2 separate regions of the Homo sapiens genome follow, and region 1 is linked to region 2. A link means that fine-mapping ties the variant in region 2 to the expression of a gene that starts in the linked region. Tissue or cell type: tibial artery. Region 2 holds a variant in brackets; the other region holds the start of a gene. All regions are shown on one strand. Distances are from middle to middle.

Region 1 (6,097 bases), 260 kb before region 2:
GGCAGAGGCTGCAATCTCGGCACTTTGGGAGGCCAAGGCAGGCGGCTGGGAGATGGAGGTTGTAGCGAGCTGAGATCACGCCACTGCACTCCAGCCTGGGCACCATTGAGCACTGAGTGAACCAGACTCCGTCTGCAATCCCGGCACCTCGGGAGGCCGAGGCTGGCGGATCACTCGCGGTTAGGAGCTGGAGACCAGCCCGGCCAACACAGCGAAACCCCATCTCCACCAAAAAAGTACGAAAACCAGTCAGGCGTGGTGGCGCGCGCCTGCAATCGCAGGCACTGGGCAGGCTGAGGCAGGAGAATCAGGCGGGGAGGTTGCAGTGAGCCGAGATGGCAGCAGTACAGTCCAGCTTCGGCTCGGCATCAGAGGGAGACAGTGGAAAGAGAGGGAGAGGGAGACCGAGAGGGAGAGGGGAGAGGGGAGAAGGGAGAGGGGAGAGGGGAGAGGGGAGAGGGGAGAGGCAAAAGAAACAAATCTTATCAGAGACCTTCTCTGTCCATCCTCATCAGCCTTCCCATCCCCACCCCCTCCATGCACACACCACTCTAACCCCTTCCCTTGCCTTTCCTCTTCTCAGCACTTATCACCACCCAACATATGTTTATCCACTTATTTTCTATCTCCACCAACTAAAGTGTCAGCTGCATGAAAGCAAGGACCTTCTTTTCTTTCACTGCTACATGTCTTTCACTGTTATTATTTCACAACCATCATAACATAAATGAATATTTATTGAGAGAATCCCATTTTATAGATTAGGAAACTGAGGTACAGGCTGATTTAGCAACTTGCTCTAAGTTGCCCACCAAGTCAGTGGTGGGGCCAGAACTTAAATGCTGATAGAGGCCCCTCTGTCCTCCAGGACCTGAGAGTCTAGTCCTCATTTTTACAAGCACACATGTGCACACACACACACACACACATGCACACGATGTTGTTACCTGATGGCACATGACCCAGAACCAGGAGAGCCACAAGGAACAGAAGCAGCTGTGTCATGGCCACGGGGCTCCTGGGGAGGCTGCTGGAGAGAGCACAAGAGGAAAGACCCGAGCAGGCTGAGCCTCGCTGCTTCCAGCCCAGGCTTTATTGAGCTGCAGATGAAGGCAGTGCTGTGGGCAGCAGGCCTAAGTGGGAGTATGAGGCCATGTGGTCCCCAGGCTGCTTGGGATTTCAGCCAGCTACGTGGGAACTGGTCAGCCACACCCTCCGGAGCCTGTTGAGCTCGGAAGGGGAGGTAGAATTTTCTGAGGCAGTGTCTAGGGTCAGAAACTAGACATCTTCCCCACCTAAGAGAGTGGAAAAAATCTTGGCTTAAGAGAGACCTAGTTCAATCCCCCGCATCTCCCCCTAACTGCTGTGAGACATCAGACAAGTCACTTAACCTCTCTGAGCCTCAGGCTGTTGTCTATGAAATGATGACAAGCATCCCTTACAAGGCCAAGTGAACAGCATGTATGCAGGCCTACTCTAAAATGGGAAGAGTAATAGTACCCATGTCATAGAGAGTAATAGCTACCCATCTCATTTAGGGGACTAAATGAAGTAATACAGTGGCTCCTATACTATGGTTCCCCCAGCAAGCAGCAGCAACACCTGGGACTTGTTAGAAACACCAGTTCTTTAGCCCTACCCCAAACCTACTGAATTCACCTCTTCCTAAGCAGAAGAAGGCCACAGGTCACAGAGCAGCCCATGGGTCACAGGTTAAACCACTGGTTACAAGTTAGACCACAGATTCACTAACACTGGTCACAAGTTAGCTCTCTGGTCATTTGTTAGATCACTAGTCATAGATGAGAGTATGGGTGGGTCCCGGCAAAATGTGGCTTAACAAGCCCTCCAAGTGATTCTAACACACCGCCAAAGTTTGAGAACCCCTGAGATAATATCCGTGCAGAGCTTAGAACAGTGTCTGGTACACAGGAATCTAAGTTGCATCATGAAAGATGAGTAGGGGAAAAGGTATCCCGGGCAGAAAGAATAGAATGTGCCTAGAAGAGTAGGGCATGAGCCAAGCAAGGGTTTTCCTGGGAGGAGAGGTTGAAATGATTCTGCAGAGAATAGGTTGGGGCTTGAATGCCAAGTTCAGACTTTTGTATTATAGACAACCAAAAGTTTTTTAGCAAGAGTGTAAGCTGTTCATATTATAGTTTTAAATAAAGAAACTGAAACCCAAAGAGGGAAGTTGACTTGCCTAAGGTCACACAGCAATTGTGCTGCAGAGATGGAAAAGCCAAGTCACCTCACTCCCAGACAATGAAGGGTGCTGCACCACTCATGGCCCATCTTGCAAGTTAGAAAGGTAAGCTTAGAGGGCCAAGCCACGGAAGGAAGCCAGGCACGAGGGGGTTCTGTATCAGCTCCAAGACCTGTGGGGGCTGAGCCAGTCTGTTCAGCTGCTGTGGGAGTTATTCCAAGCTGAACACCTGAATCCCCTCAGCCATGACAATGAGCCCCACCCACAGGTGCAGCCTGGTCTCCATGGGCTCCACACACAGACACACCCCAATTTCTCAAGACCTAAAGGGAGGCAGCCCAGTCAAAGAGTCTGGATCCTGGCCCCTTGGATGGCCGACGTCACCAGCAATCTCTTTCCTCCTCCTCCATACCTGGGAGCATTTTTTTTTTCAGCCATCAGTAATAGAAACAGTAGACAGAGTGGCAGAGACCTCAGGCCCAGGCCCAGCTAAGCCTCAGTTGGTGAATGAATGAATGATGCCAAAATAAGATTTTCATAATTCTTCAGTGCAGACTTCCTGAGCTCTCTCTTCCTCCAAGCCACCTCCCAAAATTAATTCTTCATCCAGAGCAGAGTTTCTTAAAGTGAGGTCAGTGAACCGCCTGCATCAGGATCACTTGGGGCACTTGTTTAAAACGCAGATTCCCGAACCCCTCCCCCAGCACCGTGGAATCCGCCTCTCTTGGAAGGCGGGACCTGAAAATTTAGCAAGTTCCCCAAGTGGTTTTTCTGGGGGCTAATATGTTAGTGCATCCCCTTGATGGAGTGGACAGATGTGGACGCAGATGGAGCTCCAGACCCAGGAATCCAGAGCCCCCATCCTTCCTTTCTCGTCTGCCACCCTCACCCGGTGCGTAGGGCTGGCAGAAGCGGGTCAGCTGAGCTCTGCACTTTCAGAAAAGTCACTGAGCGGCCAGGGCCTTGGGGCGGGGACCCCGGGGCTGCCCTAATGGGGCGGGGCTGGATGGGGCGGGGTCGCGGCTCCTCCCCCGGCCGAGGCGGCGAGGGGAGGGGAACTGGCCTGAGGGGCTGCTCACTGAGGCGGGTGGTACAGCCTGGAGCATCCAGCCGCTGGAGCTGCGAGGGACCCTGGACCCCTCCCACGCCGAGGTAAAGCCCTGCGCTACGCGCCGCCAACTTGCTCAAGTTGGAGCAGAGTTCGCCAGGCGATTGAAGGGGGATTCGGCAGCGTTGGCAGGAATAGGGGGGCTTCGAAACCGCGTCCCTAGGGTGAGGGTCTTCAGACCTGGGACCCGGAGGGCTGGATAGCCCTGGACAAAGACCCCTCCAACCCCAGGATGGGGGATTCACACCCGGGATGCCGGCTGAGAAAGCTCGGACCCAGACTCCAGGAATGGCACAGCGTTCCCGGGCCCTGTGGTCTGCCCTCCCCGTCCCCTGCCAGGACCCTGTCCTGTCACCTAACCTGGGGCCTGACCGGCGGCAGCTCCCGTCCCCAAAAGCAGTTGGAGGCCGTAGCGCCAGCCGCTCCTGAATTTTTCACACAGGGGGCGGGTCAGACACGCGGTTCCCATGGCACTAGGGCACTCGGGTTACAGTCGGGTTACCCCCATACCCCCCTCGCGCTTCTGGAGTGCCAACCCGCCCTCCTGCCTCTTCCTCCTCAGACCCCGTGAAATTGGGCATCGAAAGTTAAGTAGCCCCTACCCTTGGGGGAGACCTGAAACTGCACTCCCAACCCAGAAGCTGTGAAAGAGAGCGGTGGGGAAGGGGAGGAGGGGGACAATTCAGATGTCTTTCAGAGCCAGGGCCTCATGTTCTGTGGCAAGGGCAGGTCCGTGTACACGGAATGGGGAGTGTGCATGTGAGGACATCCCACCTTACTACTGCCCCTCCACCTGCCTGTCTGTCATCAGGAGTAGATCATCCTTAAGACAAGGGAATGGCCTCTGGGTGTGCATGTCTGTGTGTTCACAGCCTGCACACTCACTCCTTCCATCCGGATCCAGGTTTATGCAGAGCCTGAGGCCAGAAAACCTAGGGACTTTCTGCCCCAAGAAGCTGAGGCACCTCCTACTCCCATCTGAACAAGAGGGGGATCTGGAAGAAGCCATACAGCAGCTCATCAGGACACTATAGAAAGAAGCAGCTCAAAGCAATTGGCTGACAGCCAATTCCCCCTTCTTTCAGAAGGAAAGAAGGAAGAAGCAAACCCCCCCCTACCAAAGATGACACTCAACACCGAGCAGGAAGCAAAGACCCCTCTGCACCGGCGAGCCAGCACCCCACTGCCCCTGTCCCCACGGGGCCACCAGCCTGGCCGCCTGAGCACAGTGCCTTCCACTCAATCCCAGCATCCCCGGCTGGGCCAATCAGCCTCCCTCAACCCTCCCACCCAGAAACCTTCACCTGCCCCAGATGATTGGTCTTCTGAATCCAGCGACTCTGAAGGCTCCTGGGAGGCTCTCTACCGTGTGGTGCTACTTGGAGATCCTGGAGTGGGGAAGACCAGCTTGGCCAGCCTCTTTGCAGGGAAGCAAGAGAGGGACCTCCATGAACAGCTGGGAGGTAGGGGCCATATGGGCTGGGCTGGGATGTGGCCAAAGGAGCGAAAGCCCTGTCACCAGGGACACAGGGCTGCCAAGAACAGTTGTACAAGTCATGCACTGTTCAACTCTAAGGGGCATCATTCACTTAGACTATGACATGCACGATGCCCCCCCGCCCTCCAAAGTTGTACAGGGCACAGCCTGCACAATGGTCAAGGGGAGGGAAATTCTTGAATAGAACAAGAATTTTGCCAACTTCCCATGAATGAGAAGTATATGATTCATTTCCATGTCATGCGGGTGGCAATTCTGAATTCCATGTTAAGAAATGGTGGACTTCCACCAAGGTCAGAAACTCCCCTCCCTGACTCCTCTGACTCTTAGATTCTCCCAGTCCCATAGACACCCATCCATGGTCACCATGATCTACAGCAAAACTAAGATCCTTTGCAGAAGGGAGACTCCGAGACCCCAAGTTCTGGGCCCTGGGTTGCTTTATTCCCAAGAACTGCTGTGAGCTGAGAGTGTCGGGGGCCCCAGGATGATGGGGTACAGGGAAGATAGAAGAGATGAAGGTAGGCCCCTGAAGGACTGGCCAAAAGGACATAGGGTGAGTGGGGGAAGGGGGTTGATTAAATGCAGAGAAAAGGTAGGGACATCTAGCCAGACTCCTCTCTAGTCTTGACTTCTCTCTCCGAGTGAGAACACATATGTGTTACAGATAGGGAGACTGAGGTCAAGAGAGGATAACATGACCTGCCTGAAGCACTCACTAAATCAGAGACAGAGCAGGCCTGGGAGAATTCCTAGCCCAACTTTAACCCCACCACCCCACCTTCATTCAATCAATCAAATCTTTCTGGCACCTACTATGTGCCAGGTACTATGGCAGCTGGGGAGACATGGGCTCCTACCAGGAGAGACAGGCATCAAACAAGTGTGATAAGCGTTTCCGAGGACAAGTGGAGGGGGCGATATGACCAGAAATGGGGGGCAGGGAACACCACACTCTCTCAGGCTTGCCCGTCCTCCCTGAGATCCAGCTCTTCCCTCGGTTGCAGAAGATGTATATGAGAGGACCCTCACGGTGGATGGAGAAGACACCACACTGGTGGTCGTGGACACCTGGGAGGCCGAGAAACTGGTATGGCACTGCAAGCAGAATTTGGGGAGAGGGGTGCTGAGCCTAATACTAGACTCCTTCCTGTCCCCTCCTGGGGACACTACAGATCAGGTGTGAGCAACGGCCATCCTCAGCACCCTCCCCCAAAACCCACAGCTCCTAAGCAGTCTTTCCAATCCCAAACAGAAGACCCTTATGACCCTGACCCCTTTTCTC
Region 2 (6,097 bases):
ATCCAGGAGGCAGAGGTTGCAGGGAGCTGAGATCCTGCCACTGCCCTCCAGCTTGGGCAACAGAGAGGGACTCTCTTTCAAAAAAAAAAAAAAAAGTCATGATAGCTATTGGACATTAACACGAGAGGGTATTGGATTAACCTAGGGAACAAGATGAAATTGGAAGCTTCAAAAATAATGATCTCTGTCTGAAACAGAATAGTAGTAAACAATTTAAATAAAAAGGAACAAGGCCGGGTGTGGTGGCTTACACCTGTAATCCCAGCACTTTGGGAGGCCAAGGCAGATTGATCATAAAGTCAGGAGTTCGAGACCAGCCTGGCCAACATAGTGAAACCCCCGTCTCTATTAAAAATACAAAAAATTAGCTGGGCATGGTGGCGGGTGCCTGTAATCTCAGCTACTCCGGAAGCTGAGGCAGGAGAGTCGCTTGAACCTGGGAGGTGGAGGTTGCAGTGAGCCAAGATCGCGCCATTGCACTCCAGCCTGAGCGACAGTGCAAGACTCCGTCTCAAAAAAAAAAGAAACAAAGTAGAAAGAAAAGACAATGAAAATGGTTTTCTTGTTGAATTGTACATATGTACAGAGACTTTTTTTGCCTCATTATTCTTTATACCTTTCATACATTGCATATATGTATTTGTATCTACTCTGTTAATAAAATCAATGTTTAAAAGACAAGAGGAAATATACTAAAATGCTAATAGTAGAGATAGTGCCACTAAAGGCTACGTTATAGTTATTTTTCTTTATTCTTTATTATTTTCAGTATTTTTTCATATATATAACATATAGCTTTAGGGGTACAAGTGGTTTTGGGTTACATAGTAGATGAATTATATAGTTGGTGAAGTCTGGACTTTTAATGTGCCCATCACATAAAGAGTGTACACTGTAATCAATAGGTGATTTTTAATCCCTTACCTTCCGTGTATTTTCCAAATATTAAAATAAGAAAGCATTACTTTTGGCCTGGCATGGTGGCTCATGCCTGTAATCCTAGCACTTTGGAAGGTCGAGGTGGGCAGATCACTTGAGGTCAGGGGTTCAAAACCAGCCTGGCCAATATGGTGAAACCCTGTCTTTACTAAAAATACAAAAAATTAGCTGGGTGTGCTAGCGGGCGCTTGTAATCACAGCTACTCAGGAGGCTGAGGCAGGAGAATCACTTGAACCTGGGAGGCAGAGGTTGCAGTGAGCCAAGATTACACTCTAGCCTGGGTGACAGAAGAGACTTTGTCTCAAAAAAAAAAAAAAAAACTTTACTTTTTAAATGAGAAATTTGAAAAACATATGAACACACACAGACATTATATGAATATATAAAAATGCGTGTGTGGATAGATATAGATATATGAGGTATCTGTATTTGCATTAAAAAGTCTTCGAATCATTCTTTTTTTTTTTTTTTAAATTGAGATAGGGTCTCCCTCTGTTGCCCAGGCTGGAGTATGGTGGCACAATCATAGTTCACTGCAGCCTCAAACTCCCAGGCTCAAATGATCCTCCCACTTCAGCCTCCTGAGTTGCTGGGACTGCAGGTGTGCACCACCACACCCAGCAATTTTTTTTTTTTTAATTTTTATAGAGACGGGGACTCACTATGTTGCGTAGGCTGGTCTCAAACTGCTACCACCAATCTTACATGTGCTTACTGAAAATAACCCCCTGCGGCTGGGCGCGGTGGCTCACGCCTGTAATCTCAGCACTTTGGGAGGCCGAGGCGGGCAGATCACCTGAGGTCAGGAGTTCAAGACCAGCCTGGCCAACATGGTGAAACCCTGTCTCTACTAAAAATACAAAAATTAGCCAGTGTGGTGGTGCATGCTTATAATCCCAGCTACTCAGGAGGCTGAGGCAGGAGAATCGCTTGAACCTGGGAGGCGGAGATTGCAGTGAGCCAAGATTGCGCCACTGTACTCCAGCTTGGTGGACAGAGCGAGACTCTGCCTTTAAGAAAAAAAAAAAGGGGCGGGCGCGGTGACTTATGCCTGTAATCTCAGCACTTTGAGAGGCTGAGGCAGGTGGATCACGAGGTCAGGAGATCGAGACCATCCTGGCTAACACAGTGAAACCCCGTCCCTACTAAAAATACAAAAAATTAGCTGGGCGTGGTGGCGGGTGACTGTAGTCCCAGCTACTCAGGAGGCTGAGGCAGGAGAATGGCATGAACCCGGCAGGCGGAGCTTGCAGTGAGCCAAGATTGCACCACTGCACTCCAGCCTGGGCGACAGAGCGAGACTCCGTCTCAAAAAAAAAAAAAAAGTTGTTTTGGAACAGTCTCTGGAAGAATAGGCAATAGCCTGTCTGGATGTGGTGGTTACTTTTAATCTCCTCTCTGGTGACTAATCTTCCCTGGTTGTTTGATGAGATTTCTAGGAAGAGAGTTTAAGACAATTGCATTTAATACAATTGGAAGAACTTCCCTCAGTCATATAAGGGAAAGAACTTCCGCAACTGCTCCCTCCTGCTCTTTGGAAGGGAATGATGGGGACAGGGAGCAGAAGGTCAGAGGGAGACCTTGTTTCTGAGGCTTATTTCTGAGGCCTTTCAATCTCCTTTGTTCAAAGCACCCAGCATGCCAAAGCACCATATTTTGGAGCATCATTTTCTGAGCCCCAACACTTGGTTGGATGGAAGACTGG[A/G]AGAATAAAAAAAAAAAACAAAAAAAAAACAGTGCCACAGTGCTGACTTTTCTGGGGAACCTTTTTTTTGTTTGTTTTCCGAGACAGGGTATGACTCTGTTGCCCAGGCTAGAGTGCAGCAGTGTAATCATAGCTCACTGCAGCCTTGACCTCCCGGGTCCAAGCGATCCTGGGGATCCTTTTGACAGCTGTCATCAATTATTTATACCTGCAACCTTCTCCAGAGGAGTGTCTTTGGGTGATCGAAGTCACCTCGTTTGGAGGTGTCTGGAAGTTAAGTCATCACCCGGAGCCAATGGAGTAGGAAGCCTCCATGAAGCTGGAAGGCAGGTCCAGATTTCTGGCCTAGTGACCACTAGTTAGATGGTGGAGGGACTAAGAGACACAGAGTGGAGGATCAGATTTGTTAGGGGCAGCAGTAGAGGCTGGTTCTTTCTTTCTCGCTCATTATTTATTATTTTTCGAGACAGGGTCTCATTCTCTCACCCAAGCTGGAGTGAGGTGGCATCATCACAGCACACTGCAGCCTCAACCTCCTGGGCTCAAGCAACCCTCTCATCTCAGCATCCAGAGTAGGTAGGACTATAGGCATGTGCCACCACACCCAGTTAATCTCTCACTTTTTCAAAACAGAGTTTGAGAGCTTAAATAACTTTCTACCTCACTGGCTCCTCCTTCTCTCTCCTTTGCAGTTTTACTATTACAAAAAAAAAAAAAAAGTCTGGGTGTGGTGGCTCATGCCTGTAATCCCAGCATTTTGGGAGGCCGAGGCAGGCGGATCACCTGAGGTTGGGAGTTCGAGACCAGCCTGACCAACATGGAGAAACCCCGTCTCTACTAAAAATAGAAAATTAGCCGGGCGTGGTGGTGCATGCCTGTAATCCCAGCTACTCGGGAGGCTGAGGCAGGAGAATCGCTTTAACTCGGGAGGCGGAGGTTGCAGTAGCCGAGATGGCACCACTGCACACCAGCCTGGGCGACAGAGTGAGACTCCATCTCAAAAATAAATAAAATAAAATAATTACATAAATAAAAAAGAGTGTTGCTGTGTATTATTTGGGTGATTTGAATTTATTTATTTTTATCATTATTTTTTGAGATGGAGTTTCACTCTTGTTGCCCAGGCTGGAGTACAATGGCGCAATCTCAGCTCACCTCAACCTCTGCCTCCCGGATTCGAGCAATTCTCCTGCCTCAGCCTCCCGAGTAGCTGGAACTACAGGCGCCCACCACCACCTGGCTAAGTTTTTTATTTTTAGTAGAGATGGGGTTTCGTCATGTTGGCCAGGCTGGTCTCGAACTCCTGACCTCAGGTGATCCACCCACCTCAGCCTCCTAAAGTGCTGGGATTACAAGCGTGAGCCACCGCACCCAGCTAACATTCTTTTTTTTTTTAATTAAAGACTCAAATTATCTATCCTTTCTCTGTATAAATCCAGTTTAACTTCTCCCCTCTGAATTTCCCATTCTTGTTAGTTTGTTATGAATTTTTCCATAACTTTCTCTCTATATATATATCCACATAGGAGAGGCAGTCCAAGGCAATGGTTAGGGGATTGGTCTCTGGAGTAGGCCTTCCTGGGCTCAAATCTTGATTTTGTCACCACAAAAGCTGTATGATCTCAGATAAATTGTCTAATCTTTTTAAGCCTCAATTTCTACAATCTATAAAATGGGTGTGGTAACATTAACTATCTCATAGGGTTATTGTTAGGATATATGAGTTAATATGTGTAAAATACTTCTAATAGTGGTTAGCATGTGGTAAGTACTAATGGTTACTTATACACACCCATGGGAAAAGTGGAACATTATTTTGAGTATTTTAAAAACATAATGATGTCATAATGAATTTATGTCAATCAGCAATTCATTTTTTTGAGACGGAGTTTCACTCTTGTTGCCCAGGCTGGAGTGCAGTGGCGCGATCTCAGCTCACTGCAACCTCCGCCTCCCGGGTTGAAGTGATTCTCCTGCCTCAGCCTCCTGAGTGGTGGGATTACAGGCGCCCACCACCACGCCTGGCTAATTTTGTATTTTTAGTAGACACCGGGTTTCACCATGTTGGCCAGGCTGGTCCCAAACTCTTGACCTCAGGTGATCCACCTGCCTCAGCCTCCCAAGGTGCTGGGATTACATGCATGAGCCACCGCGCCCAGCCATGCAATTCATTTTTTTTAACTCAAAAATATATCTCAAAGATCCTCTCCTGTCAGTCCAGATCCATGGAACTTTTTTAAACTGCTGCTTAGTGTTCCATTCTGTAGGCAGTTGATTGAAATATTCCTCGATTTGTGAAAATTTAGGTGGTTTCCAATTTCTTACAACTACATTGCAATGAACTACTAATTGATTTCCTTATTTCCACTCTTGTTCCCTTCCCTCGATGATAACTGAAATTGTGAACAGAGTGGACCAGATGTGTCTATCCTTCTTTCCAGCCCTGAAATTCTGCTTCAGTGATTCAGACCACATAGTCTCCCATTCACAGAGAACGAGAACTTGAAGCTCAGCCTAACATAAGCAGGTAAAATGATAGGAGAGGAAACTCTTGGACCAGGCTTACCTCCTGTTCATTTGGAAGGAATTGGGAAGCTCTTGCATACATCCTGGCCTCCTGGCATTGCCTCATTCATTCATTTATTCATTCAGTCAGTTACCTTCTGCCTAGTAGTCCCCAGACAACAATAGTTCTGATGCTTCTTCCTTCCTAATATAAGGCAAACTACCTTTACCCCCACCTTGACCCAAGCCTGTCTACTCCATTGTTGGCAGGCACATGCCTGGTTGTTGGGTGATGTGGGTGCTGAAAGTGGGACAGTCACAGCCCAGGCAGACCCCTGCCCTCCCTTTGCCCCACCATCTATCCAGCTCCTGCCTTTCTCCTTGTATTGCCATCCACACTTCAGGGCCTCGCGAGCAAATGGTTTTGCATTTATCACCTGCTAATACACTAGATCATTTACTTATTTATCTCATCTGGCATCTGTCTTCTCCCCTAGAATAACAGTTCCACGAGGACAGGAATTTTGTCTGTCTTTTTACTGTGGTATCCCCACACTTAGTATGGTGACTTGGCACATAGCAGGTGCTCAATAAATGCTGCAGCAACTGGGCATTTGTGTGACTGGATGAGTGTTATCTCTTGGAATGAAACCTAGAAATGGAAGTCCTACATCATAGGGCATACTTATTTGACATTTTAATAGTTGTCAATAGGCTGAGCGCAGTGGCTCACACCTGTAATCTCTGCATTTTGGGAGGCTGAGGCGGGCAGATCACCTGTGGTCAGGAGTTCCAAACCAGCCTGGCCAACATGGTGAAACCCCGTCTCTACTAAAAACTAAAAAATTAGCTGGGCGTCATAGTGGGTGCCTGTAATCCCAGCTACTCAGGAGGCTGATGCAGGAGAATCACTTCCCGGAAGGGGGAGGTTCAGTGAGCCGAGATCA

Direction of the effects. Alleles are on the strand shown, and positions count from the first base shown. SD is a standard deviation of normalised expression in the study named.
For the expression in tibial artery of the gene that starts at base 3,280 in region 1, allele A in region 2 goes with a higher level than allele G (moderate effect, 0.66 SD a copy in GTEx).

Evidence for each region. PIP is the estimated chance that this variant, and not a neighbour inherited with it, causes the effect.
Region 1: it holds the start of REM1, and the variant in region 2 is fine-mapped to the expression of REM1 in tibial artery (GTEx, PIP 0.99).

The regions. Positions count from the first base shown.
Region 1 is chr20:31,472,009-31,478,105 of GRCh38, forward strand. It overlaps REM1 (RRAD and GEM like GTPase 1), which reads left to right and starts at 3,280. Exons shown (of 5, transcript NM_014012.6): 1 at 3,280-3,358; 2 at 4,219-4,777; 3 at 5,820-5,902. The coding sequence starts at 4,438. DEFB124 (defensin beta 124) reads right to left here and starts at 3,119. Exons shown (of 3, transcript NM_001037500.2): 1 at 2,619-3,119; 2 at 948-1,030. The coding sequence starts at 1,005. RefSeq lists a silencer at 3,172-3,231.
Region 2 is chr20:31,728,733-31,734,829 of GRCh38, forward strand. No RefSeq gene overlaps it. Among named protein-coding and RNA genes, the nearest start is that of TPX2, 7.5 kb to the right of the region's middle. The variant A/G (reference allele first, on the strand shown) is at 2,646.